Linked DNA regions of Homo sapiens. The protein of the gene in region 1 purifies or fractionates together with the protein of each later gene. This does not show direct contact. Each region holds a gene or a part of one and is shown on either strand. Other genes may lie near its edges.

The links.
Region 2: the proteins of ADIPOR1 (region 1) and DENND10 purify together in Homo sapiens (affinity purification with mass spectrometry; 2 studies listed by BioGRID and IntAct, with this or other methods). This does not show direct contact.

What each region holds. Positions count from the first base shown.
Region 1 is NC_000001.11:202,937,674-202,953,991, reverse strand, and holds the end of ADIPOR1 (adiponectin receptor protein 1), read left to right. Parts: intron 1-2,827; 5' UTR 2,828-2,921; coding exon 2,922-3,062; intron 3,063-5,571; coding exon 5,572-5,688; intron 5,689-7,381; coding exon 7,382-7,553; intron 7,554-8,796; exon of another isoform or gene 8,797-8,822; coding exon 8,823-9,009; intron 9,010-10,046; coding exon 10,047-10,234; intron 10,235-11,773; coding exon 11,774-11,967; intron 11,968-12,290; coding exon 12,291-12,419; 3' UTR 12,420-13,160; downstream 13,161-16,318. UniProt on the Homo sapiens protein: Receptor for ADIPOQ, an essential hormone secreted by adipocytes that regulates glucose and lipid metabolism. Required for normal glucose and fat homeostasis and for maintaining a normal body weight.
Region 2 is NC_000010.11:119,097,795-119,114,112, reverse strand, and holds the start of DENND10 (DENN domain-containing protein 10), read right to left. Parts: upstream 10,001-16,318; 5' UTR 9,971-10,000; coding exon 9,916-9,970; intron 9,349-9,915; exon of another isoform or gene 9,091-9,348; intron 8,803-9,090; exon of another isoform or gene 8,629-8,802; coding exon of another isoform or gene 8,618-8,628; intron 6,166-8,617; coding exon of another isoform or gene 6,146-6,165; coding exon 5,949-6,145; intron 2,265-5,948; coding exon 2,185-2,264; intron 1-2,184. UniProt on the Homo sapiens protein: Guanine nucleotide exchange factor (GEF) regulating homeostasis of late endocytic pathway, including endosomal positioning, maturation and secretion, possibly through activating Rab proteins such as RAB27A and RAB27B.

The DNA.
Region 1 (16,318 bases):
TGATGAAATTAGTAAGAATGCCAATCTGGATTCTGCACATGATCTTTGGACCCTAATTGCCCAACTTAAATTTTCTCTATATTATTCTCATTGCCTCTAGTAAAATAGTTACATAGCACTCAAAGTTACTAAATTTAGTGTGTGACCATTCTAGTTGAGGGGTTCTCTCCCTCCACTGCCCTCCTGGAGCAATCAAATTGTATCACTTATTTTTGTGCATATCACAAACTACCTATGTTATCTGGCTCTTTGAAAACAATACTATAACTTGTTCAACTTGTATTTTGCACAGTGTCTTGTATTTTGCACAGTGTCTTAGAATGCCTTAGGGTGCTAGTCCTAAATACACTTGCTAAATATTCAATGAATGTGTTGACTTACTCTGGGGAAAGGGATAAGAGAAGCCACCACAAGCACAAGAAAATGCACATAAGCCCTTATCTAAGTGGCTAGAAGCTAAGTCATATGCTGGCAAGCTGGAATCTGCCCCATTCATTCATTCATTTTGAAATGGGTTCTAACTAAAATAAAGTATATTTATTATTTTATGATCCATGTATTGCATCTCAGAACCAGAATTTTGTTTTGTTTTGTTTTGTTTCTGCCCTGGTAGCCTGATCTAAGTTACTTCCAACAGTAACTTAGTAAGTAACAAGCTAAGTGTGCCCCTCTTTTCAGATTTATCTAAGATGCCCAAAAATATTTATGTTTTTTGCTTGTGATATAAAGTTGTTTTTTGGTTTTTTTTTTTTTGCTTGCGATATAAAGTATTTTTTAGTAAAGCTGCTGATTCAGTAGTACTTCACTTTGAGGAAATATGTTTTGAGGTCAGCCTATTGAGAAAGATTTCCTTGTGTCCCTCTCACACGGGTTGCCCATCCTCGAGGTTTTCATAGGCTTCCAGCTTCCTGTTCTCCTTAGCTCAATTGTTCACTATGACTGTGTGCTGGCATCTCGTCAGAGTCTTGCACATTTAAAGGAAGAGGAACTGTCTATGTGTTGACACCATATAAAGGTCTGCTGTATAGCAAGTTATTGTTTTTGTCTCTCTTGGACTAGATTGCCGGTTGCTTTCAACTGTGCTTGTGGGTTGAGCATAGCATGACTCATGACTGTTTAGAAGCTTGAGGATTGCCCTTACCTGATGTGTTAGTAAGTGTTCTCCAGAAAGCACCAATAGGATACATACATATGGATAGAGATGGGATTTATTCGGGGAATTGGCTCATGAGATTATGGAGGCTAAGTCCCACACTATGCCATCTCAAGCTAGACAATGAGGAAAGTCCATAACTGGTTCAGTTTAAGGCTGAAGGCCTGAGAACCCAAGGGGCTATTGGTGCACGTCCCGGAATCCCAAGGCAGGAGAACCTGGAGTTTCTGATGTCCAAGGGCAGGAAAAGAAGGGTGTCCCAGCTCCAGGAGGGAAGGAGGGGGAGAGACAGAGAGAGTTAGGGAGTCAGAGAAAGAGATTTATAATCCCTGAGAAGGAATTGTGATTACTCTTAGATAAAAAAGAACTGACACAAGATATCAAAGATATTTGTATATAGTGAATAGCCATGGATGATATAGTGTCTCCCTCAGGAGCAAAGTTATGTTTACTGCCCAATATAAAAGATTGGGGCTCCCTAAGCTTAAGTTTCCTCTCCCGGAATGCAACCCACTCCATGTGCAGTTGTTACCTGGCCCTCCCTGCATTGCAATGTGGTTATTTGGGTTTGGGTGGGGCTTGGGTAACCAATGCAAGAAAATGCTAATATTCTGGCTACTGCTATTGCTATAACTAATAAAGTCCTTTGTATGGGGGTAGAGGTGGGGAGAGAACTAATAATTTACAGCATAGTGGAAATCTTTGGAAACTTTCTCCCTCTTTCCCTCTTTTTTTATTTGCATTTCCCTGAGGCCTGTTTAAAGACTACTGTGAAAATCCAACCCAGGAAAACCTAAAGTGTCTGAGATTTTTCCTAGAAAATGGAATTCTGGGTTTTTCTGATTTTGTGTGTGCCTGTCTCTAGTTTCTGAAATACTCATTTGAGTAGGGCTTAGATTATGGGTTGTGGTGGTTGAAACAAGTTATTGTGGAGCTGGTTATTAGGTATGTGTGTGGCAAAGGGTAAATTGGGGCTGCCTCCTTGTCTTCACCTTCCTGCTTCCAGGTAAGTTCTTGCTTGCTTGCAGGACAGATTGTGATGAAAGCTTGTTATCCCAGGGTTGAACTCAGGCTATAATCCTGTAATAGAATTAGTAGACTTCGCAGAGAAATTAACCACTAGGCATCTGTCCCACAACCAAGTTCCTTTTGTATGTATGACACATTTATCAGAGCATTTGTAGATAAGGTCTAACTGAGTTCAGTTGGCATTTAATTCATTTCTAAGCCTGGATGATCTTGTAGTAATTGCAGCCAGATGTTGGCTTTATATTTTTATTCCTCGGTCTCAGAGCTAGGCCTTTCTTGGGCAGAGTGAGCTTTGGGAGTGATAGATGAGATTCTTCTCACTAAATGGTTCCATACCTGTGGGAGGGAGTTGAGGGTGGGTAGCTGTTTTTCTATGGTGACAGTTTGGTGCAGTAACCATAGATCATATGAAAGCAAGCAACTAGGTGTTACATTTTCAGCCTTACCTATAAGATTAGTGAGGTTCTGGGTAAAGGTTGACATTAAAGAGGGAGGACAGGAATAGATTTCATTTAAGCAATTAACTGGCCTTTAGAATTGGGGACAGGATATGAGTTGATTAGCTTCTTATTCAGTATTAGAGTATAGAAATGAAACTGTAAGAGGAATAAATTGTCAATCCTTCATGTTTGTATTTTCTTTTAGTGTCTACCATCAGAGGGAGATCTCTGCCCCCTGGGGCTGAGAGACCCCAACCTTTCCCCAAGCTGAAGCTGCAGGGTATTGAGGTACCAGCCAGATGTCTTCCCACAAAGGATCTGTGGTGGCACAGGGGAATGGGGCTCCTGCCAGTAACAGGGAAGCTGACACGGTGGAACTGGCTGAACTGGGACCCCTGCTAGAAGAGAAGGGCAAACGGGTAATCGCCAACCCACCCAAAGTAAGTCATCTTCCCAGGAGTCATCCCCTTGTTCAGTTTCTCTCCTTAGAACTCTGTCATTTTCTCTTTTTTAAGAGCTCACCGTCCAAAAGGAGGAACATTGCATCCTGGAAATGTCTCTATCCAAGTCCCTATGATACTGTTATAAACATCTTGTTGTCTGCTTTCCCCATTGTAAGCTTTTGGGAATGCACTCATCTTTGTAACACCAGTGCTTAGCACAAGGCCTGCAGTCCAATAAATAATCAGTAAATATCTGAATGAATGAAGGAAGCAGTCAATTAGGATTAGGTTTGACTTCATATAACACACAAAAATCCTTACAGTTTTGACAGGACAGAAGTCTCTCAAGCAAAAGAATTTCAGAAGTAACCAATCCAGGGCTGATATGGAGGATCCACCACTGTCAGGCACCTGTGTTGCTCTCCCATCACTCTTAATATGTGCCCATCATACCCACATTCTACCCCCCATGAAAGGGAAACGAGAAGAAAGGCCCTCTCTTTCCCTTTTATTTTTATTGAGATAAGATCTCGCCATGTTGCCTAGGCTGATCTTAAACTCCTAGGCTCAAGTGATCCTCCTGCCTCAGCCTCCCAAAGTGTTGGAATTACAGGTATGAGCCACTGTGCCCGGCCAACTCTTTGCCTTTTAAAGGGACTATCAGGGCCGGGCACGGTGGCTCACACCTGTAATCCCAACACTTTGAGAGGCCGAGGCAGGTGGATCACCTGAGATCAGGAGTTCGAGACCAGCCTGGCCAACATAGTGAAGCCCCCTCTCTACTAAAAACACAAAAATTAGCTGGGTGTGGTGGCAGTCGCCTGTAATCCCAGCTACTCGGGAGGCTGAGGCAGGAGAATCGCTTGAATCTGGGAGGCAGAGGTTGCAGTGAGCCGAGATCGTGCCATTGCACTCCAGCCTGGGCAACGAGTGAAACCCCCTCTCAGAAAAAACAAAAATAAATAAAGGGACTATCAGGAAGTACCTCATAAGACTTCGGCCAGAACTTACTTACATAACTATATTCAGCTGCAGTGGAGGTTAGAAAGTGCAGCCTGAGTAAAATTGCAGTAACATTGCCACCCTGAACAAAACCGTGGGCTTTGTTACTTAGGAAGAGAGAGAATGGATGTTAGGGTAGACTGGCTGGAAGCTGTAGCACAAAATCTAAGATGGACCATGTGTTTACTAGTGACCATCAGCAACAGGAGAGAAATAGCCCAGAAAAGGAGTTGAACTGCCAGGCTTTCTATAGCCATGATTCGGAGCCTTGGGATAGAGAGAGAGAAAGTTCTCTCCCTTTCACAGGCAAGTGCTCTCCTGGGTGTGTTTTTTTTTTTTTTTTTTGGAGACAGAGTCTCGCTGTCGCCCTGGCTGGAGTGCAGTGGCACGTTCTCGGCTCACTGCAGGCTCCGCCCTCCAGGGTTCATGCCATTCTCCTGCCTCAGCCTCCCGAGTAGCTGGGACTACAGGTGCCCGCCACCTCGCCCGGCTAATTTTTTGTATTTTTAGTAGAGACAGGGTTTCACCGTGTTAGCCAGGATGGTCTCGATCTCCTGACCTCGTGATCCGCCCGCCTCGGCCTCCCAAAGTGCTGGGATTACAGGCGTGAGCCACCGCGCCCGGCCCTCTGGGTGCGCTTTTTTAGGCCCTGGAGTCAGTACCGCTGTTTTCCATGGAACCAGTTCTGAGGCCCTGGTACTCCTGGGAGCTGCTGTAGATACAAAGTTTCAATCATGACAGCATCCCTAGAGTCAGTGAACAGGGAACTCTGAACAGAATTATTGTTATGGAACTCTCTGAGACTCTGTGTCTTTTTCGTTGTTTTGAAAACGTAGGCTGGGCATGGTGGCTCAGCCTGTAATCCCAGCACTTTGGGAGGCCGAGGCAGGAGGATCACGTGAGGTCAGGAGATTGAGAACAGCCTGGCCAACATGGTGAAACCCCATCTCTACTAAAAATACAAAAATTAGTCAGGCATGGTGGTGGGCGCCTGTAATCCCAGCTACTTGGAGGCCGAGGCATGAGAATTGCTTGAACCCGGGAGGCGGAGGTTGCAGTGAACAGAGATCGCACCACTGTACTCCAGCCTGGGTGACAGAGGGATATTCCATTTCAAAAAAAAAAAAAGAAAGAAAGAAAATGTAATGGCTTAGAAAAGAGAACTCTTTGGGAAACTGAGGAAAGTTAAGAACCACTATCCTAAAGAAAAGGATGTCATTCAGTACCTAGAGCTGGTGTATTCCCCCAATGCTAGTCTCTGTGACAGTCCTTCTTTTACGCACTGCATAGAATGTTCACTCCAGCATTTACGAAGTATTAATAAATTTCTAACTAGTGTTGTAAACTCAGTGTGTATGCTTTTGGAGAAGAGACCACAAGACCCTCTGTAGGAAAGAGGCTGGGCAGAAGGCATTAGGTTTGGGTTTTTCTGGGTCTCTCTGCTCTGGAATAGTACAATTTATGAGATGACTCCCTGGATTGTTGTGGGTTTTTTCCCCCATAGGCTGAAGAAGAGCAAACATGCCCAGTGCCCCAGGAAGAAGAGGAGGAGGTGCGGGTACTGACACTTCCCCTGCAAGCCCACCACGCCATGGAGAAGATGGAAGAGTTTGTGTACAAGGTATGGCCTATGAGCTTCTGTCCTGGAAGGGGAAGGGCAGCAGGCCTGTCTGGGATGTCCCCAGCCAGCAAGCTTGCACTGGGTCGAAGAGCTTTTATTCCTGGGAAGGAGTGGATTTGTTTTTTGGTTAAGATGAGGTAAATCAATGTGAAGACTGGCTAAATTTTTACTGCCTACTCTGTGAGGCATTGTTCAAAATATATTCTTAAAACGGATTCTTTTCTATGCAAGGGGCGCCTTTGGAAGTCATCAAAATATTTCAATATGACAGTAATATGAATGCCTTTGTTAACACATTAAATATACATGAATGATGAGCACTAATGTATTTTATTAAAATTTGTAATTTCTAAGTAATGATGAATAGAAACAGTATTTTGAGATACCTGCAGAACTAATGTGTGAGAGTATCTGATTTCTATTGGTGACAAAGCCACAAGTTCTACTAATACTGTGGTTTGTTGCTTATGCTTATAATTGAGGAAAATGCTCAATTTACTTAGAGGTAAATGGAAATACAATTTTTTCCATCTATTCCCTGGATCCTGTCCATAGTGCATGGATCCTAGATTAAGAACCCCTACTCTAAAAAGATGTGGTAAGAACTTAGAATCTAATTGGGGGAGGGATGAGACATGAGATAGAATCTCCTGGAGAGGGGCAAAGGAGGGATCTGTACGTTTTTTAAAACAACGTTTATAATTTTTTTGTTTTTATTCAGTATATCAATTTTGAAATTTCAAGTAGCCTAAAGGAGGTTGTACCATATATATATATATATTTTTTTGAGACAGAGTTTTGCTCTTGTCTCCCAGCTGCAGTGGCACGATCTCAGCTCACTGCAACCTCTGCCTGCCAGGTTCAAGCACTTCTCCTGCCTCAGCCTCCCGAGTAGCTGGGATTACAGGCATGTGCCACCACGCCTGGCTTATTTTTGTATTTTTAGTAGAGACGGGGTTTCTCCATGTTGGTCAGGCTAGTCTCGAACTCCCAACCTCAGGTGATCCGCCCGCCTCAGCCTCCCAAAGTGCTGGGATTACAGGCGTGAACCACTGCGCCCAGCCTGGTTGGACCATATTTTCTTAAAAGGTTGAGAAACACTTACCTAAAACTTCTCCAGATAAACTAACATGAAACAAAGACAAAGAGATTTTTTGTTTGTTTGTTTTTGTTTTTTTGTTTTTTTTGAATACAGAGTCTTGCTCGGTCGCCCAGGCTGGAGTGCAGTGGTGCAATCTCGGCTCACTGCAACCCCCGCCCGCCAGGTTCAAACCATTCTCCTGCCTCAGCCTCCTGAGTAGCTGGGATTACAGGTGCCCGCCACCATGCCCGGCCAATTTTTTGTGTTTTTAGTAGAGACAGGGTTTCACCATGTTAGTCAGGCAGGTCTTGAACTCCTGACCTCAGGTGATCCACCTGCCTCAGCCTCCCAAAGTGCTAAGATTACAGGCATGAGCCGCTACACTCAGCCAGGATTTTTTTTTTTTTTTTAATGGTCAAAATATGAGTCAGGACTCTGCTAGCCCCATTCATGCTATGTCTTGGATATCCCCCAGTCCAGGCTGGTTCTCCACTATTACCTAGGACCATTCAGAGCCTGACTGACATCTTCTTAGACTAGTTCTCCATCACTGCTTGTCCTTGGGGAAGGTACTATCTAGTGCCCTACCCAGAGAAAGTGTATATGTTCTAGGTCTGGGAGGGACGTTGGAGGGTCATCCCATATGATGTGCTCCCTGACTGGCTAAAGGACAACGACTATCTGCTACATGGTCATAGACCTCCCATGCCCTCCTTTCGGGCTTGCTTCAAGAGCATCTTCCGCATTCATACAGAAACTGGCAACATCTGGACCCATCTGCTTGGTGAGTGATTTGGATGGGGAAAGGTGGAATTTGTTGTCTCCCTAACTGCGAAGGGATTATAGAGCCCAACAAAGTTGTTCAGATCGATTGGCAGCTGGGATTCTACCTTTAAACTACTAATGACTTTAAGCTAATAACCTTGGTTGACCCTTGATCACTGATCTTTAAGACTGAGAGTAAAAGGCCTAGAAACCAAAGAAATTGGGACTAGATATTTTTTTGTGATCCCTGGCAGAACTGTTCTAGGTGGAGACAATTCCTTGTACTTCGTAATTTCCAACTGTAAAAGTAAAATGCCAACATTTCAAAAAATGGTCTTTTTTGTCTGGGTTTCTGTGACCAGTGCCACTTTCTTTGAAACATTGGACTGCAATTACACAGCTAAACCTCATAGCTTTCTGATTTTTTTTTTATTTCAATAGCTCTTGGGTTACAAAGGGGTGGGGGGGGGTTTGGTTACATGGATGAATTATATACTGGTGAATTCTGAGATTTTAATGCACCCATCACCTTAGTAGTGTACATTGTACTCAATATGTAGTTTTTCTGTCTCACACCCCTATCTCCCCCTCCCGCTTCTAAGTCTCCATAGTCCATTATATCATTCTATATGCCTTTGCGTACTCATAGCTTAGCTCCCACTTATAAGTGAGAACATATACAGTATTTGATTTTTCATTCCTAAGTTACTTCACTTAGAATAGTGGCCTTCAGCTTCATCCAGGTTGCTGCAAAAGACATTATTGCATTCCTTTTTATGGCTGAGTAGTATTCCATGGTGTACATACACCACATTTCCTTTATTCACTCATTGGTCAATGGACACTTAGGTTGGTTCCATATCTTTAGAGTTGTGAATTGTGCTACAATAAACATACATGTGCATGTGTCTTTTTCATATGACTGCTTTTCCTTTGGGTAGACACCTGGTAGTGGGATTGGTGGATCAAATAGTAGCTCTACTTTTAGTTCTTTAAGGAATCTCTATACCCTTTTCCATAGAGGTTATACTAGTTTATAATTTACATTCCCACAAGGAGTGTATAAGCATTCCCCTTTTACCATATCCATGCCAACATCTGTTGTTTTTTGACTTTTTAATAATGGCCTTTCTTGCAGAAGTAAGGTGGTATTTCATTGTGCTTTTAATTTGTATTTCCCTGATGATTAGTGATGTTGCCTGTAGCTCTCTGATTCAAAAACATCAACCATCAAAGTGTACACATTCCCTTTTTTCTTACAGGTTTTTTTTATTTTACCCTCCTGCAGGTTTCGTGCTGTTTCTCTTTTTGGGAATCTTGACCATGCTCAGACCAAATATGTACTTCATGGCCCCTCTACAGGAGAAGGTGGTTTTTGGGATGTTCTTTTTGGGTGCAGTGCTCTGCCTCAGCTTCTCCTGGCTCTTTCACACCGTCTATTGTCATTCAGAGAAAGTCTCTCGGACTTTTTCCAAGTGAGTTAAAAGAACACCATAGGAAAATACTGTGCACTGTTGTCACATCTTGAGATCCCAGTGCTTACTGGGTGATAGGAGCTCATATCACTCCTAAAGGTTTCTTGATATGCCAGAGGAAAGGCTCTCTGTTCTGTGGCGATAGTGGGGTGATGAAGCTTTTCTCTTAAACACTTCATGAACAGACTTACTGCATCCTCTTCAACAGATGGAGAGACCAATTGTGGAATATATTTTCTACCTGAAAAGCACTATCTTTTGTGAGGCTTAGAGTGCCAGTGCACTGGCTGCTTTCCAAGACCTTGTACAAGCGTAACTTACTATTAGCCCAAGCCAAAGTAGGGTGTGGTAAATAGTCTATGCTTCATTCTGCTGGTGCTCCTACCCAGCAGTCAAGTAAAGCTTATCTTTGCTGCCCATGCATTGCTGGAAGCTCCAGATGTCCATCATCGTGTGCTTTCTCTCTTGCCCAGCCGTGAGCCTGAGGTTCTATTTGTTTGCTTGTTTTTGTTGTTATTGTTGGTTTTGGTGGCGACAGTGGTGTATTATTTTGTTTTTTCTAACAACACCAGTAAGAAGGTACATTTTCCTCATTTAAAAAGTCAACTAAGATAGAAAAAGCTAGAGTATCCCTTAATACTACTCCCAATTTAAGAATTTTGTTTTTAGAACTCATTCTATCAGAATAGGAGAATTTTCAAAGCCTTTCCTGAGTGTGATGCTGGGAACCAGCTGGATTGTGATGGAATTTCTAAATTCAAGTGTCTACTATGGGAGATACGGCTGTTCACTAGTAAGGGAAAGGGATAGAGTTCTTTGAATGGGGATTCTTAGAGATTTTTCCATCGTAAAATAGAAGTGACCTTGTGGAATTTTAATCCAGAATACAGGATAGATTGTATGGGAGTCTACAATACAGGATAGATTGAGGGAATGGTTAAATCTGGGAGCAGGTGGAGAACAGAAAGAGCTAGTTAAATGAGCCATACAAATTCATTTCCCCCACTGATTTGTTTCATTTTTGTGGTTCTTTTTAGACTGGACTATTCAGGGATTGCTCTTCTAATTATGGGGAGCTTTGTCCCCTGGCTCTATTATTCCTTCTACTGCTCCCCACAGCCACGGCTCATCTACCTCTCCATCGTCTGTGTCCTGGGCATTTCTGCCATCATTGTGGCGCAGTGGGACCGGTTTGCCACTCCTAAGCACCGGCAGACAAGAGCAGGTAGGTCGGAAGATGTACGTACACCTCAGAGGTATTTAGACCTTAGGCCTGATAGGCTCAAACCTATTTGAGCCTTAAGGTTTGCAGCTTGAGAACCCCACCCAAACCCTGATTTGTGTTTCAGAACTTTCAAAACAGCATCAATTTCAAAGCTCAGTTCTCAACCCCCAGTGTCATACTATTTCAGTAGAATGCCAATAGGACAGATCATTACCCAGCTGGTCAATTAACTGCAAGCACAGATGTAGCTACTCTTATACTTGGTTTGTGACAGTTTAAAAATGTAGCAAGCACAGTAATTTTAGTGACCCGAGTCCCAAGCTCAGACCAAGGGATTAAAATTAAAACACTCAGAGGCATTTTACTAAGGGAATGGAATACCTGGTTTGGTGAATGAAAATACCTTGAGCATAAACAGGTAACAAAGTAATAGCTACAAGCATAAACATCTTTGTGTTGTCTCATCTCATCTGGACTCTTATTTTAAGCTTTTATTACTTGCAGCAACACCACCAATTACCACTAGTCTTTAGTCCCTTTACAATTAATATCTGCTATGTTTTAACCTTCAGTTAAAATAATTAAATATTGTCCGGGAGCAGTGGCTCACGCCTGTAATCCCAGCACTTTGGGGGGCCGAGGCAGGCGGATCACTTGAAGTCAGGAGTTTGAGACCAGCCTGGCCGACATGGTAAAACCCTGTTTTTATTTAAAATATAAAAATTAGTCGGCGTTGTGGCAGGTGCCTGTAATTCCAGCTACTTGAGAGGCTGAGGCGGGAGAATCACTTGAACCTGGTCGGGGGCAGAGGTTGTAGTGAGCCAAGATCACGCCACTGCACTCCAGCCTGGGCAACAAAGCAAGACTCTATCTCAAAAAAAAAAAAGAAAGAAAGAAAGAAAAGAAAAAAATAATAATAATTAAATATTTATCAAGCACCAGCCACGTGCCATGCACTGTGCTTAAACAAAGGTATTTACAAAGATGGAGAGGTGGTCCCTGCCCTTCAGTTATGTGTAGTGTAATGATGAGACACATACCCATTCTTCCCTTGCTCTTGCCTTACTTGTGTGTCCCAGCAGCTACAGGATAACTGCTAATCTGGGTATATCTGTCTACTCAGGAGGTCAGAGTTCTGGTTATGTAAGACTTTTATGATCTTAACAGGAAGCCTATCCTATGCTTCTCTGACTTGGGAGGCAACTGAAGCCTTGACATCTAAGTTCTGTACCCAAGTTAGCCATCAGAGAGTCTTGACATACCATTTTTACCTAAATTCCTTAACAGATAATGAAGAATATGAGATCTTTGTTCTTGGTGCTTAAAAGGTAGTAAGCACTTACACAGCTTCTTCCCATTCAGGACATAGAAGAAATATCTGTTGAGTGTTATCCATCTTGTAGCTAAGTTTCCTAAACATGTACTATTCATCCAAAAATAGCTAATTATCATAAACATTGAAATTCCAGAGTAAGACAGCAGTGCCTTCCATGCGGTGGCTGTTTCCTTGTTTGACAGTCTTATGTCTGTTCTGTTCAGGCGTGTTCCTGGGACTTGGCTTGAGTGGCGTCGTGCCCACCATGCACTTTACTATCGCTGAGGGCTTTGTCAAGGCCACCACAGTGGGCCAGATGGGCTGGTTCTTCCTCATGGCTGTGATGTACATCACTGGAGCTGGCCTTTATGCTGCTCGAATTCCTGAGCGCTTCTTTCCTGGAAAATTTGACATATGGGTAAGAAATGAATCTTCCAGCAGGTCCTGTGATGGTGAGTGAACAGCCCAAAGTTAAAGGGCTGAGGAAAAGGTGGTATGAGACTGGGATCATATAGTGTTTGGAGGTACATATATGTGCATTGAAGGTAAATCATCAATATTAACATTTTGGTGTATCTCTGACAAGGACTGTGTTTTTAAAACTTTCTAAATATACCACTTTAATGTTATTAACAAATTTGTTTAATTAAGGATAAACTAGAAGAAGCAAATGCTTTCTCCTACTTGTTTCTTATTCCTCCTTGCATTATCCTAAAGGCTCTTTTCTTTTTATTCCTACAGTTCCAGTCTCATCAGATTTTCCATGTCCTGGTGGTGGCAGCAGCCTTTGTCCACTTCTATGGAGTCTCCAACCTTCAGGAATTCCGTTACGGCCTAGAAGGCGGCTGTACTGATGACACCCTTCTCTGAGCCTTCCCACCTGCGGGGTGGAGGAGGAACTTCCCAAGTGCTTTTAAAAATAACTTCTTTGCTGAAGTGAGAGGAAGAGTCTGAGTTGTCTGTTTCTAGAAGAAACCTCTTAGAGAATTCAGTACCAACCAAGCTTCAGCCCACTTTCACACCCACTGGGCAATAAACTTTCCATTTCCATTCTCCTAGCTGGGGATGGGGCATGGTCAAACTTAGCCATCCCCTCCTCAGCAAGGCATCTACCGGCCCCTCACAGAGACAGTACTTTGAAACTCATGTTGAGATTTTACCCTCTCCTCCAACCATTTTGGGAAAATTATGGACTGGGACTCTTCAGAAATTCTGTCTTTTCTTCTGGAAGAAAATGTCCCTCCCTTACCCCCATCCTTAACTTTGTATCCTGGCTTATAACAGGCCATCCATTTTTGTAGCACACTTTTCAAAAACAATTATATACCCTGGTCCCATCTTTCTAGGGCCTGGATCTGCTTATAGAGCAGGAAGAATAAAGCCACCAACTTTTACCTAGCCCGGCTAATCATGGAAGTGTGTCCAGGCTTCAAGTAACTTGAGTTTTAATTTTTTTTTTTTCTTGGCAGAGTAATGTAAAATTTAAATGGGGAAAGATATTTAATATTTAATACTAAGCTTTAAAAAGAAACCTGCTATCATTGCTATGTATCTTGATGCAAAGACTATGATGTTAATAAAAGAAAGTACAGAAGACACTTGGCATTCAAAGATTTCACATGTATGGTCTTGATTATTTGCACACAACTCCAAAACATTAAGTAAGACCTGTGATAATTTCAGATTCTCCTGAGGCACAAATTTGAATCATAGGCATTGACAGGCTGGCACATGCAGGCCAATAAATGGACCTAATTGAATTCCTAGCATCCATTCCCCAATACAGCTTTACTTTTTTATGTAATTGTTGCATGGATTATCTTTTTACATTTTTAAATTTTTTTTTTTCATAGAGCCATTTGAAAAGAACAGACCATCTTGTTAGAGAAATCAGTATGCTATAGTAGTGTTCAATAATTAGGAGATTCTCAGGGCTGGGTGCAGTGGCTCACGCCTGTAATCCCAACGCTTTGGGAGTCTGAGGCGGGTGGATTGCTTGAGGCCAGGAGTTTGAGACCAGCCTGGCCAACATGGTGAAACCCCCATCTCTACTAAAAATACAAAAATTAGCCTCGTGGTGGTGGGCGCCTATAATCCCAGCTACTCGGGAGGGTAAGGCACGAGAATCACTTGAACCCGGGAGGTGGAGGTTGCAGTGAGCTGGGATCACACCACTGCACTCTGGCCTGGGCAACAGAGCAAGACTGTCTCAAAAAATAATAGACTGGATGCAGTGGCTCACGCCTTTAATCCAAGCACTTTGGGAGGCTGAGGTGGGTGGATTATGAGGTCAGGAGTTCAAGACCAGCCTGGCCAAGATGGTGAAACCCCATCTCTACTAAAAATACAAAAATTAGCCGGGCATGGTGGCGGGCAGGTATAATCCCAGCTACTTGTTGCTTGAACCCAGTAGGTGGACGTTGCAGTGAGCCAAGATCATGCTGCTGCATTCCAGCCTGGGAGACAGAGCGATACTCCACCTCAAAAAAAAAAAAAAAAAAGTATAGTAATAATAATTAGAAGATTATCAAAAGTGTTGGAATACATCCCAAAGTTTAGGGATATATCCCATGTTGCCTAAGGTTGTCTCATCCAGGGGTCATTCCATGCTTTTCGGTGCTATTGTGAATTGTACTCAACCTGACATGAGTTCTGTTCATTATATAGCGCAAGATATCAGTAATCACTTCTCAGCTAATGCAGGCAGTTTAAGGGCAGTCTTTTTGAGTTAAAGTTGGGTTCATGTCAAGAGTCAAGTTTCTACAATGGAAGAACAAATTATCCTTTTAAAAAAATAATCCACCTACACCAACAGGAAAAGTTTCTCTGCCTCAAGTAACCAAGGAAATGTAAATTAAAACCAAAATGATAATCTGTCTTACTCCAACCAGACTGAAACCAAATTAGAAGCCTAATATTGAGTGTTGGTGCAGATGTAGAGCAGACCAGATGCTGCTGGTGGAAGTATACATTGCAGGACCACTTTACATGGACACACAAAGAGTGTATACATGTTGACAACATTCAAACATTTCGTGAAATGACACTATACAATATGAAATGCATCTGATATCTAACCTAGGTTACTTCACTTAAAAACAGTGCTGGCTGACCCACTAAATTGTTCTCATGACTCAGTAATGGGTCGCTACTCACGCTTTCAAACACACCGCTCTTGGAAAAACCTGGCTTGTACCAAAGGGTTCATTGCAGCTGTTTGTAGTAGCAAAATGTTGCAAACAAGCCAAATGTCCCAAACTGTTGAATGGAAAACTATATCTTGGTGTATTCATATAACGAAACACTGCTGGTGAAAATGAATTACAGTGACAAGCAACAACATGGTTGAGCCTCAGAAATAAGATCGGCAGGAAGGGAGGGAAGCAACAGAATACATTTGCATAATTGCATGTATGTAAAATTAAGAAAATTGCTAAATTAATGATAGGTTTAAGGATACAAACATGGTAAAAACTTTAAAGAGGGAATGTTAATTTAGAATAATGTTTACCTCTGAAGGACTAAGAATCTTTAAAGTTTGTTATTTTAAGTTAGGTGGTGAGCACCTACGTGATCCTTTTGCCTAAGATCATGTGATACTCACTGCCTTTATGCAATGAGTGTTTTATATGTTTAATCCAAAACCATTTTAAGTCTTAAAAAATGCTTAAGGAACTGTTGGCAGAAGTCACAAACTGATGACCTGTACATCAAAAACATCCGTAGACATGTTTGGCCTTGCACAGTGAGAGCAATCAACTGCTACTCAAAAGCAGCTATGTATGTCCTTTATAGAAGGCTGGTGCACTCCAGTTCATCATGGTCCCTACCTAGGGTGATGGTCTCAGTGCAGTCATCTGCTGGCCTCTGCAGGCATCTCGGTTTGCAGCCGCTAGTATAAGAAATGGAAGGAAACCTAGGGATCATATCTGATCCAACTCCATTTTCTAGATAAGGAAATGAGATCCACAGCTGTTGAGAAGGCCTAGTGTGTGGGGGAGGATTGCTTGAGTCCAGGAGTTGGAGGCTGCAGTGAGCTATGATCACACCACTGCACTCCAGTCTGGGTGACAGAGCAAGAGCCTATCTCTTAAAAAAATAAAATAAAATAAAAAACAACCTAATGTGTGTTTCTTCATTTCTCCGTACTAGACAAGATCAGGGAAAGATGATCTAAGAGATAACATTATTGGGCACCTATTTGGTACTTTTGGTATGTCATTTTATATCGTTGACTCTGTGGAATACATAGTAAATGTAGTTAGAAAATAAGTTAGTCTTTCCCCTAGTTCTTCATTCACTAATAGGAAAGGGATAGAATCAGATTCTCAGTTTTCATTCTTGGCCTCCTTTTTTTTTTTTTTTTTTTTTTTTCTTTTTTAATTGAGACAGAATCTCACTCTGTTGCCCAGGCTGGAGTGCCATGGAGCAATCTCGGCTCACTGCAACCTCCGCCTCTGGGGTTCAAGCGATTCTCCTGCCTCAGCCTCCCAAGTAGCTGGGATTACAGGCACATGCCACCATGCCCAGCTAATTTTTGTATTTTTAGTAGAGATGGGGTTTCACCATGTTGGCCAGGGCTCGTCTTGAAGTCCTGACCTCAAGTGATCTGCCCGCCTCGGCCTTTCTTTAATCACAGTTCATCAGTGTTTGTCATTTACTTATTCCATAGTGCCTAGCACCTAACAGATTTGAGGACCACACTGGATTTCAGCTGCTATGAATCTGCTTATTGCCTCATCTAGAAAATGGATGGAGTTACATCAGGT
Region 2 (16,318 bases), on another chromosome or scaffold:
CACAAGCTGAGAAACCCTCTGGGCCTCCTTCTGGGCAGGAAGTGGGGTCTGAAGCAACCTTGCCTTTTGGACTCCAGAATATTTCCCAGTGAATTCAGTTGAGCAACATAACCCTGACTCAACCAAATGAAATGGGAGTCCAATGTTTGTTCAAAAATACCTCTGTAGTGTTTTTAGTTTATGGCTTCTGGATAGCGTCTTTTCTGGCAATAATAATCTCCCTTTGTGTAAGTGCCACATTAGCAGACAACTGTTTATCCACAGTGAGACATTCACCTGGTTCTTATGAGAGTAGGAAGCTTTTTTATTCTGGCTGGTTGCAAAAATGGTGAAATCTCATTTAGCCAAGATATAATCTAACTGAAACCCTTAGGTAATGAGAAGATAGTCTTATGATAGAGTTTTTCTCTTTTTTTTTTTTTGCTTCTTTTGGTGTGTGTATATACATTCACGCACAAAAATAGCCAAAAGCCTACCATTTATTAGGCTTATAAAACAAAAACAATTCCCTTCACCCTCAGTGCCCCCAAAAATCTCTGTATTAGGGAAAAGCCTGACGGTAACATGACACCTAGAATTATAATTCTATCTAGTAACAACATTTTTTTTTTTAAAGGGCTAGGTGCAGTGGCTCACGTTTGTAATCTCAGCGCTTTGAAAAGCCAAGGCAGAGGATCACTTGACCCCAGGAGTTCAAGACCAGCCTGGGCAACATAGTAAGACCACCTTTCTACAAAATATATATATATTTTTTAATTAGCCAGGAGCAGTGGCACACACCTGTAGTCCTAACTACTTGGGAGGCTGAGGTGAGAGGACTGCTTCAGCCCAGGAGTTCAAGGTTACAGTGAGCTATGATCATGCCACTGCACTCCAAGCTAGGCAAAAGAGCAAGACCGTGTCGCTAAAAAAAAGACAACAACCAGAAAAAAAAAAAAAAAATCACGACTAAAACCCTGCAAGGCAGGGTGCGGTGGCTCACGCCTATAATCCCAGCACTTTGGGAGGCCAAGGCGGGCGGATCACTTGAGGTCAGGAGTTCAAGACCAGCCTGGCCAACATGACAAAACCCCCTCTCTACTAAAAATACAAAAAATTAGCTGGGCGTGGTGGCACCCACCTGTAATCTCAGTTACTCGGGAGGCTGAGGCAAGAGAATCGCTTGAACCCAGGAGGCAGAGGTTGCAGTGAGCCAAGATCGCCCCACTGCACTCCAGCTTGGGCAACAAAGGGAGACTCTGTCTCAAAAAAAAAAACATAATAAATAAAACTCTGCAAAAGCCTTCATCATTAAGAAAGAGCTAATATCTTTAACACATAAAAAAAGAGTTTCATCACGCCTATAATCCCAGCACTTTGGGAGGCCAACATGAGCAGATCACTTGAGCTCAGGAGTTTGAAACCAGCCTGGGCAACATGGTGAAACCCTGTCTCTACAAAAAATATAAAAAATTGGCTAGGCATGGAAGTGCGCACCTGCAGTCCTTGCTACATGGGAGGCTGAGGTGGGAGGATCACCTGAGTCCTGGGAGGTCAAGACTGCAGTGAGCCATGATGAAGCCGCTGCACTCCAGTCTGAGCAACAGAGTGAGACCCTGTCTCAAAAAAAAAAAAAAAAAGAAAAAGAAAAAGAAAAAGAAAAGAAAATAGACTGGTATATTTTAGATAAATTTTTCAACAATGGAGATGAAACTAAAAGAGTCTAGCTGAATCGTGACTAACCAGTTAATCAGAATTCCCTAGCTTCTCAGCATTCCAGCTAAGAAATGTGTTATTGTGCTTCGGCATAATTCTTTCCCCAAAATGACTGTACACACAGACCTTGACACATACGAACCAGTTTACCATGTCATAAGGCCCTTAACTTATCCAACCTACTAAGGGAATTCTAGACTGGAAGTGAACAGAAGTAACAGATCAAAAGTAGGAAGTGATTCAAAACACCCAGGAGCTACAATAGCTATAAAACTGCTCCTTCTCTTCCCCTAGATCATTTACCCAAATAAGAGAAGTATCAACAGAGCAAAAGAGAAAGGCCGTCTTTACAGTCTGTGAAGGGCTACTAAAGATTATGCTGGGGAGACACAAGGCTGAACTTTGCTTTCTCAGTGTAGAAATCTGCTATGTAACTATACTAAGGTCTTCATTTTGTATATTAGCATTTAATACAATTTTTATACAGACCTACACAATATCCTAGTGAAGGCAGCATACTTCTCTGGGTTAAAATCTTTGGCGGTCAGGACAATAGAAAAATGAGTCACCTGTTCAAAAGAAACAACAAAAAAATACACTTTTTAAATACACTTTAGCAGAATTTTTATTACTATATTCTAACAAACCTTTTGTATAAGACACAACAGTATTAAAAGAAAAAGACCAAAATTTAACAAGTCCTCACTTGCTTCTTTATACTTCTGCATGTGCATATGTATTACATATACATATATATTGAATTTCCTACATAAGAATGCAATATTTAGAGAAAAAATTTTCAGAAATCAAAAATACTTCACTCAAATATAAAAAAAGTACATTTCTACTTAATGTCCCCTAATCTCATCAAAGTACAAGAAAGAAGTGCTAAATCAGACTCACCAATTTAGCAACTGCTTATCTTTTCTCCTCCACACTTTTTTACTATTTTATTTTACCTATTTTTTTTTTTGAGTTGGGGTCTCACTATGTTGCCTAGGCTGGACTTGAACTCCTGGGCTCAAGAGATCCTCCAGCCTCAGCCTCTTAAGTAGCTGGGATTACAGGCACTACCACCAAACCCTTATTTTACTTATTTTTATTGATACATAATAGATGTATATATTTTTCCAGTTTTTTTTTTTTTTTTTTTTGGGACATTTGCTCTGTCGCCCAGGCTGGAGTGCAGTGGTGTAATCTCAGCTCACTGTAACCTCTGCCTCCCGGGTTCAAGCAATTCTCATGCCTCAGCCTCCCAAGCTCCCAAGTAGCTGGGATTATAGGCACACCACCATGCCCAGCTAATTTTTTGTATTTTCAGTAGAGACAGTGTTTCACTCTGTTGGCCAGGCTGGTCTCGAACTCCTGGCCTCAAATGATCCACCCACCTCAGCTCCCAAAGTGCTGGGATTACAGGCATCAGCCACCGCACCCAGACTATTTATCTTTTCTTTATGCTGAAAACATTCAAATTATTCTAACTATTTTGAAATTAATAGATTATTCTTAATCATAGTCACACTACAGCTCTGTCGAATAGCAATTGTTCTTCGTTATAAAAGGATGAAAAACAACAAAATACATCTCAGTAACAACCATACAGCTCCTGAACTAACTCTCTGCAGGGTGCCATAAGCTAAAAAGTACTATTATAAGAAGTTTTGGCTGGGCATGATGGCTCACATCTGTAATCCCAGCACTTTGGGAGGCCGAGGCAGGTGGATCACAAGGTCAGGAGTTCAAGACCAGCCTGGCCAAGATGGTGAAACCCTGTCTCAACTAAAACTACAAAAATTAGCCAGGAATGGTGGCAGGTGCCTATAATCCCAGCTACTCGGGAGGCTGAGGCAGGGAATTGCTTGAACCCAGGAGGCAGAGGTTGCAGTGAGCCGAGATTTTGTCCCTGCACTCCAGGCTGGGCGACAGAGTGAGACTTTGTCTCAAAAAAAGAAAAAAACCTTCATTTACTTATATGCCTCTATATTATAAATTTCTGATAAACATATACCTAATATTTCCACTAATGAGACAAAATTCAGAATTTCATAAATACAAAACTTTGAAGAGATACATTTAAAATGAAGAGTAGGTGGTGGTGCATGCCTGTAGTCCCAGCTACTTGGGAGGCTGAGGCACAAGAATCGCTTGATCCTGGGAGGCAGAGGTTGCAGTGAGCCGAGATCACACCACTGCACTCCAACCTGGGTGACAGAGCAAGACTCCATCTCAAAAAAAAAACAAAAACAAAAAGAACTTATTGAGCAATAAACCAAAGATTTCATTACATATTGAAACCTATCTTTTTGGCCAGGTGCGGTGGCTCGCGCCTGTTAATCCCAGAACTTTAGGAGAAAAGACAGGAGGATCGCTTGAACTCAGGAGTTCAAGACCAGCCTGGGCAACAGAGTGAGACCTCATCTCTACAAAAAATTTAAAAACTAGCTGGGCATGGTAGTGCACACATGTGCTCCCAGCTACTCAGGGAGCTGAGGAGGGAGGATCACTTGGGCCCAGGAGATTAAGGCTGCAGTAAGACATGATTGCACCATTGCACTCCAGCCTGGGTGACAAAATGAGACTCTGACTCAAAAAATAAAAATTAAAAATTGAAGTTAAAAAAAAAAAAAGAAAATTAGCTGGACGTGGTGGCGAATGCCTGTAATCCCAGCTACTCAGGACGCTGAGGCAGGAGAATCGCTTGAATCTGGGAGATGGAGGTTGCAGTGAGCCGAGATCATGCTACTGCAATCCAGCCCGGGCAACAAGAGCAAAACTCCCGTAAAAAAAAAAAAAAAGTATCTTCTTGCAAATTTATATTTTGTAACTATGAATCTGTTTTGTCTTAAACCTTCTACAGTTTCTAAATTGTTACCTTCCTGCTATTTTAAATGTAATTTTTAAAATTTAAGCTGGTATTCTAGTCATGCTTCACATAGTCGCACTATTGGCTATAAATTAGCCCTAAAACGGGAAAAAATCTCTGTTTGGGTACATGCCAGAGGCTCAGATAAAGTATTGTTCCAATATTCTATTCTTTGAAAAAACCTGCTGGTTGCTTGGGATTAGGAAAGTCCACGATTACATCCTAGTCTTCCACATGTCACACTGATACTGTTCATATCAAACAACACACCAAGAAAAGTCTACTTAATACACAAGCTGCCTTAAATATCCTTTCTAAATTCTTTTTTTTTTTTTTTTGAGACGGAGTTTCGCTCTTGTTGCCTAGGCTAGAGTGCAATGGCGCAATCACAGCTCACCACAACCTCTGCCTCCCGGGTTCAAGAGATTCTCCTGCCGCAGCCTCCCGAGTAGCTGGGATTACAGGCATGCGCCACCACGCCCGGCTAATTTTTTGTATTTTTAGTAGAGATGCGGTTTCTCCATGTTGGTCAGGCTGGTCTTGAACTCACAACCTCAGGTGATGCGCCTGCCTCAGCCTCCCAAAATGCTGGGATTACTGGCGTGAGCCAACACGCTCGGCCTGCCTTTCTAAATTCTTAATTTATCCTGGCCGGGTGCATCACCTGAGGTCAGGAATTCACGACCAGCCTGGCAAACATGGTAAAACCTGTCTCTACTAAAAATACAAAAAATTAGCCAGGCGTGATGGTGGGTGCCTGCAATCCCAGCTACTCGGGAGGCTGAAGCAGGTGAATCGCTTGAACCCGGGAGGCGGAGGTTGCAGTGAGCCGAGATTGCGCCATTGCACTCCAGCCTGACCAACAGAAAAACTCCATCTCAAAAAAACAAAAACAAAAAAAAAGGGGAAAAGACCACATATTGCTGTACTGCTCACCACTGTATCAACTACAGGGTCTGTCATATAATAGACAACAATAAATATTTATAGAATGAATGAGAGTGAAGTGTGAAACAGAGTATTCCCAATGAAAATAATATTTAATATTTTCTTTTCTTTTTTTTTTTTTTTTTGAGACGGAGTCTCGCTCTGTCGCCAGGCTGGAGTGCAGTGGCACAATCTTGGCTCACCGCAACCTCCGCCTCCCAGGTTCAAGCGATTCTCCTGCCTCAGCCTCCTGAGTAGCTGGGACTACAGGCGTGCGCCACCACGCCCAGCTAATTTTTGTGTTTTTAGTAGAGATGGGGTTTCACCTTGCTGGCCAGGATGGTCTGAATCTCTTGACCTTGTGATCTGCCGACCTCAGCCTCCCAAAGTGCTGGGATTACAGGCATGAGCCACCGCGCCCAGCCTATTTTGGGGTTTTTTTTTTACCTTCACGCAATCATACCTTTTTCAAAATGGAAGAATCTGGAACTTCAATTGTTGTGATATAAAACCATGTTCTTCTGTACTGACCAAAGACAAAGGGATGGAGAAGTTTGTTTTCATCTGTAAGGCAGCATTTTCTCAGCAGCAGGTTCCTTAATGTGGCTGTCGTGGAAGGATAACACCACACCCACAGAACTTCTCCATTTGTGTCCTTTTCTACGGTGGAAAGATGGTCACTGTGAGAATGTCAAACAGCAGCAAGGAAGTGAATTGATTGGTTACTCAGAAACACTTAGTGGAATCAGTTTTAACATCCCATCTTACAAAGCAACTCACAATACCTGACACCCCAAATTCCCACCTATCTCTACTGCTCAAATTATCTAGCTGTCATGATCCTGAATTACAGGCCACCTGAGTAAAAAGTTTTTATAACAAACCATGAATGAAAATTCAGCCTTAGAGATATGGTAGAGTTTTGGCCGGGCACGATGGCTCATGCTTGTAATCCCATCACTTTGGGAGGCCAAGGCGAGTGGATTACCTGAGGTCGGGACTTCGAGACCAGCCTGACCAACCTGGAGAAACCCCATCTCTACTAATAATACAAAAATTATCCGGGTGTGGTGGGGCATGCCTGTAATCCCAGCTACTCAGGAGGCTAAGGCAAGAGAATTGCTTGAACCCGGGAGGCAGAGGTTGCAGTCAGCCAAGATCACGCCACTGCACTCTAGCCTGGGCAACAGAGCAAAACTTGGTCTCAAAAAAAAAAAAAAAGACAAAGAAAGATGTTAGAGTTTCTCCCTATCTCCTCCCACACAAATGCTTATCAACTAAAATTACATTAAGTTTTTAACTAGTTGGAATAATTCTTTTTTTTTTTTTTGAGGCGGAGTCTCACCGTCACCCAGGCTAGAGTGTACTGGTGCTATCTTGGCTCCCAGGTTCAAACGATTCTTCTGCCTTGGCCTCCCAAGTAGCTGGGATTACAGGTGCCCACCACCATGCCCAGCTAATTTTTGTAGTTTTAGTAGAGACAGGGTTTCGCCATGTTAGCCAGGCTGGTCTTGAACTCCTGACCTCAGGTGATCTGCCCGCCTCGGCCTCCCAAAGTGCTGGGCGGAATAATTCTTTAAATGGAGTTTTGCTCTTATTGCCCAGGCTGGAGTGCAATGCAGTGATCTCAGCTCACCACAACCTCCATCTCCCAGATTCAAGCTATTCTCCTGCTTCAGCCTCCCGAGTGGCTGGGGTTACAGGCATGCACCACCACTCCTGGCTAATTTTGTATTTTTAGTAAAGATGGGGTTTTGGTTTCTCCACATTGGTCAGGCTGGTCTCGAACTCCCCACCTCAGATGATCTGCCTGCCTCGGCCCCCCAAAGTGCTGGGATTATAGGCGTGAGCCACCGTGCCCAGCCGAATAATTTTTAATAAATACATAGAAAAGGTTTGTCGAAAACAAAACCAGAGATGAAGAAAATAGTGAAATATTTCAAACCATGTTGCATACCAACTGTGTGAATTTTGTATTTAAAATTGTTTAGGCCAAGCATAATGGCTCATGCCTATAATCCTAACACTTTGGGAACCCAGGAGGATCGCCTGAGGCCAGAAGTTCCAGACCAACCTGGGCCACATAGTGAGACCGCATCTCTACAAAAAAAAAATTTTAATTAGCTGGACATGGTGGTGTGTGCCTATGGTCCCAGCTACTCAGGAAGCTAAGGTGGGAGGATCAAGTTAGCCCAAGATTCAGAGGTTGTCGTGAGCTATGCACCACTGCATTCCAGCCTAGTCAACAGAGAGAGACCCTGTCTCTAAAGACTACAAATAAAAAATTGTTATTGAAAACAGAATTACCATTCCACCCAGTAATCCCATTACTGGGTATCTGCCGAAAGGAAAAGAAATCATTATACTAAAAAAGACACTCACATTCTGTTTTTTTTTCTCTCTCTGAGACAGGGTCTAACTCTGTCACTTGGGCTGCAGTGCGGTGGCGCAATCTCAGCTCACTGCAACCTCCACCTCTGATCTCAGCTCACTGCAACTTCCACCTCCCGGGTTCAAGTGATTCTCCTGCCTCAGCCTCCTAAGTAGCTGAGATTACAGGTGTGCACCACCACGCCCAGTTAATTTTTTGCCTTTTTAGTGAAGACAGGGTCTCGCTATATTGGCCAGGCTGATCAACTCCCAGCCTCAATTGATCCACCTGCCTCAGCCTCCCAAAGTGCTAGGATTACAGGCATGAGCCACCACGCCTGGCCTCTTTTTTCAATTTCTTTTTTTGAGACGGGGTTGGGGGGGGTCTCACTCTGTCACCCATGCTGGAGTACAGTGGCATGATCTCAGTTCACTGCAACCTCTGCCTCCTGGGACCAAGCAATCCTCCCACCTACAGGCACACCACACCCGGCTAATTTTTGTATTTTTTGTAGAGACACGAGGGTTTTACCACATTGCCCAGGCTGGCTGCAAACCCCTTTTAAATGCACGTTAGTGTGAATAATTAAAAAACTGCTGAGTTCAAAATATGATCATATGTCATCTTTTTATTTGCTATTAGTAGATAAAGACAGTTTAACTTAGCCTTAGTTCAAAAGTACCTTCTGGAGAAACTAAGTTACTTAGGTTTTGTTTTGAAGCAGTTTGAAAATCACATTAGAAATAAATACAGTAATCCACCTGGACAACATGTCGGTATCCCATCTCCACAAAAAATACAAAAATTAATCGGGTGGTGGTGCACGCCTGAGGTCCCAGCTACTCGGAGGCCGAGGCGGGAGGATGGTTTGGGCCTGGGAGGTGGAGGCTGCAGAGAGCGATGATTGCGCTACTGCACTCCAGCCTGGATAAGAGGGAGACCCCGTCTAAAAAAAAAAAAAAGAAGAAAGACAAAGAAATAAAAACAGTAAGCGATTCCCACATAAACGCACTGCTTTGAGGCACTGAAAAATAATCAGCATATTTCTTCAGTTTTGCTAAAGCCTAAGCAATGTTATTGCGCACTTGGGGAATAGAAAGAGTTTAGGGGTGTGCAAAAATCTCGGGAAAATAAAACTTTTTCGAAGGGAACCAACGGGTTCCATCCCCTAAATACTGCACGAGGCTGCCCAAAGATCCCCGTGTGATATTTTTTAATTATGGAAGATAATTACATTCCTCAGAGCTAACCGAGATTCCACCACACAGGATTGTGTAGAAACTCCTGCTTTATTTATGCACAAGCTCGATCACATGATGCAGGAGCTCTCCACTGGTGGGGGTTGGGGGCTCTGGGATACACTGCGAGGGTCCCACTCCCGGCTCTGTACGGCCTATGGTGTGTCCGTGCACAATGACGGCCTGGGCCTCCATTTGCTCCTCCGTGAAGTGGGCGTCAGACGTTTCCCACGGCCCCTCGGTCCTTGGTGAGAGCTAAAAGGAGACAATGTGTGTACAACGCGCAGCACCCGGCCCAGCAGTCTCCAGCTGCCCGGTCCCACGATGGGGGCCGCCCGGGCGGGCAGTCACCCGTGGCTCCGAGGCAGCCGCCCGCCCCCGGCTCGGGGGAACCGGACCCTGCCTCCTCCCCGCCGCGCCGCGCCGCGCCGCCAGCCGGCTGCTCCCGCCCGGCCCGGCCCCGCCCGCGCAGCGCCCCTCGCAGCTGCCCAGCCTGGGAGCGCTCGACGTCCCGGCTCCGCCGGGCAACCCGGGGCGTGCAGGGGGAGCTCCACCCCGGAATCTTGGAGGTCCCCGGGCTCCCTCGGGCCGGGCAGGCCCCACAGGCGGCCGCGGGCGGGCGGGCGAGGGCGGCGGGCCGGGTCCCCTGCACCAAGGAGGCCGGGCTCCGCAGTCCCCAGTCCAGGCCCAACAGGGAGGGGGCCGCGCCCTCCTCATGCGGTCGGCGCCGGGGGCCGCGGGAGCCCGGGCTGCCCCGGGCCGAGGTGGAGCAGAGGCAGAACCAGGGTGCGGGCTTCCAGGCAGGGCGCCTACGTCCTCACCGATCAGCCCGACTCCAAGCATCAGCTGAGTGTCCGCCACCTCGGCCGCAGCCATCTTCCGCCGCCGCGGCGCGCAGCTCTGGCTGCCGCCTGCAGGACCGGCCTCGCACCCGAACCCCGCCCCGCCCGCCGTAGGGCCCGCCCCCATCACAGGCCCCGCCTCCCTCCCCGGCCCATCATAAGCCCCGCCTCCCTCCCCGGACCATCACAGGCCCCGCCTCCCGCTGTAGGACCCGCCTCCCTCCCGCCCCGCCCCATCACAGGACCATCAACCCCCCCCGTCGGCCCCGCCCCACCCGCAGGCCCACCTATTCCAGCCCCAGTCCTCCCTGCCAGGACCTGCTCAGTGCAGCTCCACTCGTCTTCTGCCCGTGGCCCTTCGCCCTTGGAAACCTCCTTGAGTCTCCGCAGCCTGCCTCAATTTCTCTAATCCAGCTGTTCATCCTTCTTCTTCTCAATCCACTCCAATCTTTCTTCCCGTCGTAGGCTTTCCTTGTTCTACCTCTGCCCTCTGGTCAAGCTCAAAAGAACAGGTCACCTTGTTCCTAAAAAGAGGCGTCCTGAGGATGGAGGAAGGGTCTCCATCCATTCCTTCATCCAGCCACCCCCAAAACAAAACAAAACAAAAATTGAGGGCCTAATAAGGCACTGGGGATACCTTATAGGGCTGAACAAGACAGAGCAGTCCACTGGGGAAGACAGACAATTGGCGAGTAGAATAAATAATCCAGGCCAGGTGAGGTGGCTCACGCCTCTGATCCCAACACGATGGGAGGCCAAGGCAGGAGCATCACTTGAGGTCAGGAGTTCGAGATCAGCCTTGGCAACATAGTGAGACCCATCTCTACAAAAAAAATTTAAAAATTAGCCAGGCATAGTGGCATGCACCTGTAGTCCCAGCTACTCTCAGGCTGAGGCAGGAAAATCATTTGAGCCCAGGATTTTGAGGCTGCAGTGAGCTGTGATCCTGCCACTCACTCCAGCCTGGGTGACAGAGTGAGACCCTGTCTCAAAAATAAATAAATAGATAAATAGATGACAGATAGATAGATAATAGTAAAAAAGCTCAGAATGATATGTGCCCTGGAGGCAACGATATGTGCCCTGGAGGCAGTGTGTTAGAGAGTGGAGGTGTGCTGCTCTAAAATGGGTGTCAAGAAAGGCTTCTCTGAGAAAGGGATATTTGAACTGAGATCTGAATGATAGTAACGACTCAGACATTGGAAGATTTGGCTCCAAGATTCCTCCTCTGGATCTACTGTCTGCCCCAACCCCAAGTCACACAGAGCTAATTAGGGAGGGTCCTTGGTGTCTGCAGGAATACAATCCCACCCTCATCTTTTTTTCTTTTTTCTTTTTTTTTTTTTTTTTTTGAGATGGAGTCTTGTTCAGTTGCCCGGCCTGGAGTGCAATAGCGCGATCTCGGCTCACTGCAACCTCCGCCTCTCGGTTTTAAGGGATTCTCCTGCCTCAGCCTCCTGCGTAGCTGGGATTACAGGCGTGAGCCACTGCGCCTGTTTTTTTCTTTTTTCTTTCTTTTTTTTTTGGAGACAGTTTCTCGCTATGTTGCCCAGGCTGCAATTTATACATTGGAGTATATTTAGGTGTGTATATGGCATTCCTGTTTCTCTCACTAAACTGAACCCCTGGAAGGCAGCACCCTGAACTACGTGCCCTTCTATTCTCTGGGCTTCCTGTTGTAGTATAACTGTTAATGTGTCTAGTTTTCACAGAAAAGAAGCAGGTGTTTAGAGGCTGAGGAGTGGGACACAGATGTGGAATCAGTTTGGAAGCCAACTAGAAACTTGCACTAGGTGGGGCACGGTGGCTCACGCCTGTAATCCTAGCACTTTGGGAGGCTGAGGTGGGTGGATCACGAGGTCAGGAGATTGAGACCAACCCGGCTAAAACGGTGAAACCCTGTCTCTACTAAAAATACAAAAAATTAGCCGGGCGTGGTGGCAGGTGCCTGTAGTCCCAGCTACTTGTGAGGCTGAGGCAGGAGAATGGCGTGAACCCGGGAGGCGGAGCTTGCAGTGAGCCGAGATCACGCCACTGCACTCCAGCCTGGGCGACAGAGCGAGACTCCATCTCAAAAACAAACAAACAAAAAATCACAAAAATTAGCTAGGCATGGTGGCAGGTGCCTGTAATCCCAGCTACTCAGGAAGCTGAGGCAGACTGGCTTGAACCCAAGAGAGGACGGTTGCAGTGAGCCAAGATCGCGCCACTGCATTCCAGCCTGGGCGACAGAGTGAGACTCCATCTCAGAAAAAAAAAGAAAAGAAATGAGGATGAAGACGATGATGAACAGATAATTAAACAAAGGAGAGGGAGATGATAGTGGGTGCAGGGAGGGGAAAGATAATGAGGGGTGTGTCCAGGCTCCAGTGAGTGGGATGATACCTGGAATTGACACCTCCTTCCCTCCTGTTTCTCCACAAGTGCTGTCTTACCTGCCAGACAGGTACACCAGAGTGAAGGGAAAAGGAATAGAGGGTGGAGAGAGCAGAGGCGACGCATCCCCAATCTTTAAAAGTAAGACTGACCTCTGCGCTGTCACAGACAGATGGAGCTGGGGTGTGGAAACAGACAACCTGAGTTCCAACCCCCTTGCCCATCTTAGCTGCGAAACCTCACACATGTTTCCTATCTTTTCTGTGCATGTTTTCTCAGTGATCAAATGGAGCTAACCATACTTTCCTCCGTGACTCTCCCAATAAAGATTTGAATCAGGGAAAATCTTTATGCTAGTTTTATTGATAAGAATAGCCTAATTTTATAGGTAAGAATATAAAGGGTCCCCAAGACCACCCCCCAAATTCAATGATTTGTTGGAAGGATTCTCAGGATTCAGCATATAGCTATACTCATGGCTATGATATACATTTTTATTTTTTTGAGACAGGGTCTCACTCTGTCACCCAGGCTGGAGTGCAGTGGCACGATCACGGCTCACTGCAGCTTTGATCCAGGCTCAAGCTATCCTCCCACCTCATCCTCCTGAGTAGCTGGGACTACAGGCAGGCACCACCATGCCTAGCTATTTTTTTTTTTTTTTTTTTGAGATGTGATCTCACCATATTGTGTAGGCTGATCTCAAGCTTCTGACCTCAAGCGATCTGCCCACCTCAGGCTCCAAAGTGCTGGGGTTACACATGTGAACCACCATCCCCAGCTCAGGGCTATGATTTATTACAGCCAGAGAATACAAAGCAAAATCAGCAAAGGGAAAAGGCACATGGGGTGATGTCTGGAGGAAACCAGGGCCAAGTTCCCAAGAGTTATTTCCTGGTAGAGTCACACAGGACACACCTAATTCCTCCAGCAACAAGTTGTGGCAATACTTGTGATATTTATCAACCAGGGAAGCTTGTTAGAACTCAGTCACCAAGTAACTCAGTTTTTACTGGGGGCCAGTCACATAGGTACCCTCTGCCTAGCTCATACCAGATTTCCAGACTCTCATGAACCACATTGTATGTACAAATAGTTCAGGCATAGTCTGTCACTCTGATCAGTTTGATCAGTTCTAGAAATGCTGGGAACACTGCCGAAGTCCAAGTTTCCAGGCACAGCCAAGGGCCAAACTGGCCAGCAGACTTTCTATGGATATCACCCTCAGGCCTGTCGTGTGAATTCTTTTTTGCACAGCCTGCTCACTCCTTGCTCTGCAGAAAAAGAGTAAGTTACTGGCACTGAAGCAGATTTGGAAAGTGCCTAAACTGTCTGGCCACATGGACAAGTGCACAAGGGACCCCAGCATCTTCCAGGTGTTCCAATCCCAGGTTCCTATGAGTCAAATATGGTTCTTTTTCATCTTTGTTTCTGTAATTGGATTCCATCATAGATTGGGCATGTGTCAGCCAAGGGAGCCATTAGGGTGGCAGTTTTTTTTTGTTGTTGTTGTTTTGTTTGTTTGTTTGTTTTGATGGAGTCTTGCTCTGTCGCAATGCAGTGATGCAATCTCAGCTCACTGCAACTTCCGCCTCCTGGGTTCAAGCAATTCTCCTGTCTCAGCCTCCTGAGTAGCTGGGACTACAGGCGCAGGCCACCACACCCGGCTAATTTTTGTATTTTTAGTAGAGACAGGGTTTCACCATATTGGTCAGACTGGTCTCGAACTCCTGACCTCAGGTGATCCACCCACCTCAGCCTCCCAAAGTGCTGGGATTACAGGTGTGAGCTACTGTGCCCAGCCTTTTTTTTTTTCTGAGACGGAGTCTTGCTCTGTCACCCAGGCTGGAGTGCAGTGGTGTGATCTCCACTAACTGCAACCTCCGCCTCCCAGGCTCAAGCAATTCTCCTGCCTCAGCCTCCCAAGTAGCTGGGACTACAGGTGTGTGCCACCAAGCCTGGTTAATTTTTTTTTATTTTTAGTAGAGATGGGGTTTCACCATGTTGGCCAGGCTAGTCTGAAACTCTTGGCCTCAAGTGATCCATCCGCCTTGGCCTCCCAAAGTGCTGGGATTACAGGTGTGATCCACCACGCCTGGCCAAGCTCTTTTAATTTAAGGGATTCAGTCTCACTTGGGAACTGGAAGGCGATTCAGTCAACTGCTCTGACACTCCGTCCTGACTTCTAGCATATGTGAGGCTTCCAGAACATTCCCAAGATGAAGTCATCCTCCTTGTGTTCTCAATGGTTTCAGGATGCTGGGTAGCTCTCCGGCCCTAAGAAGCCCAGGTTTCGAGCTGTGTTGCATTATTCTTTTTTCTTTCTTTCTTTCTATTTATTTATTCATTTATCTATTGAGACAGGGTCTTGCTCTGTCACCCAAGCTGGGGTGCAGTCGTTCAATCACAGCTTGCTGCAGACTTGACCTTCCAGGCTCAAGCAATTCTCCCACCTCAGCCTCCCGAGTAGCTGGGACCATAGGTTTGTGCCACCATGCCCAGCAATTTTTTAAAACTTTTTGTAGAGATGGGGTCTCCTTATGTTGCCCAGTATGGCCTTGAACTCCTAGGCTCAGGCAATCCTCCTGCATCAGCCTCCAGAGTAGCTGGGACTATAGGCATGAGCCACGATGCCCGGCTAATTTTTATTTTTATTTTTATTTTATTTTTGTAGAGATGGGAGTCTCACTATGTTGCCCAGGCTGGTTTTGAACTCCTGGCCTTAAGACATCCTCCCACCTCAGCCTCCCAAAGTGCTGGGCTTACAGGTGTGAGCCATCACACCTGGCTACTATGTTGCATTAAAAGAAATAGTTCATGGACTGGGCACCGAGGCTCATTCCTGTAGTCCCAGCATTTTGGGAAGCTGAGGCAAAAGCATCGAGCCCAGGAGTTCAAGAGCAGCCTGGGCAACATAGCAAGACCCTGTCTCTAGAACAAAAATTTAAAAATTAGGTGGGCTTGGAGATACACACCTGAACCTATCTACTCAGGAGGCTGAGGTGGGAGGATCACTTGAGTCCAAGAGTCACTGGTTGCCATGAGCTACAATTGAGCCACTGCACTCCAGCCTGTGTGACAGAGCAAAACCCAGTCTCTAAAAAAACCAGTCTCTAAAAAAAAGAATAATACATAGTTCAGCAAGAAAAATGTAATTAAAATAATTCTGATCTTTCTTTGCGTTTTCCAAAAAACATTAAAGAGGACAGAATTTATTACCTACAGTGAAATGTCTTAAAATCCCTTTCCCCTCAGATTTTTAAAAATAAAACTTTTAGGCTAGGGGTGGTGGCTCATGCCTGTAATTCCAGCACTTTGGGAGGCCAAGGCAGGCAGGTCACCTGAGGTCAGGAGTTCGAGACCAGCCTGGCCAACATGGTAAAACCCCATCTCTACTAAAAATACAAAAATTAGCTAGGTGTGGTGGCAGGTGCCTATAATCCCAGCGACTTGGGAAGCTGAGACAGGAGAATCCCTTGAACCCAGGAGGCAGAAGTTGCAATGAGCCGAGATCACACCATTGCACTCCAGCCTCGGCAACAAGAGTGAAACTCTACCTCAAAAAAAATAATAATAATAATAGGCCTAGGCCAGGCACGGTGGCTCACACCTGTAATCCCAGCACTTTGGGAGGCTGAGGCGGGTGGATTGCCTGAGCTCAGGAGTTCAAGACCAGCCTGGGCAACACGGTGAAACCCCGTCTCTACTAAAATACAAAAAATTAGCCGGGCATGGCAGCGTACACCTATAATCCCAGCTACTTGAGAGGCTGAGTCAGTAGAATCGCTTGAACCTGGGAAGTGGAGGTTGCAGTAAGCCGAGATTGTGCCACTACACTCCAGCCTGGGTGACAGAGCGAGATTCTATCTCCAAAATATATATATATAAATAATAAATAAAAAAATAAAATAAACATTTCAAATAGCTTTAGATTTTCAGAAAAGTTGCAAAGATAGTATTGAGAGTTACCATATACTGCACCTGATTTTCTCTATCATTAACATCT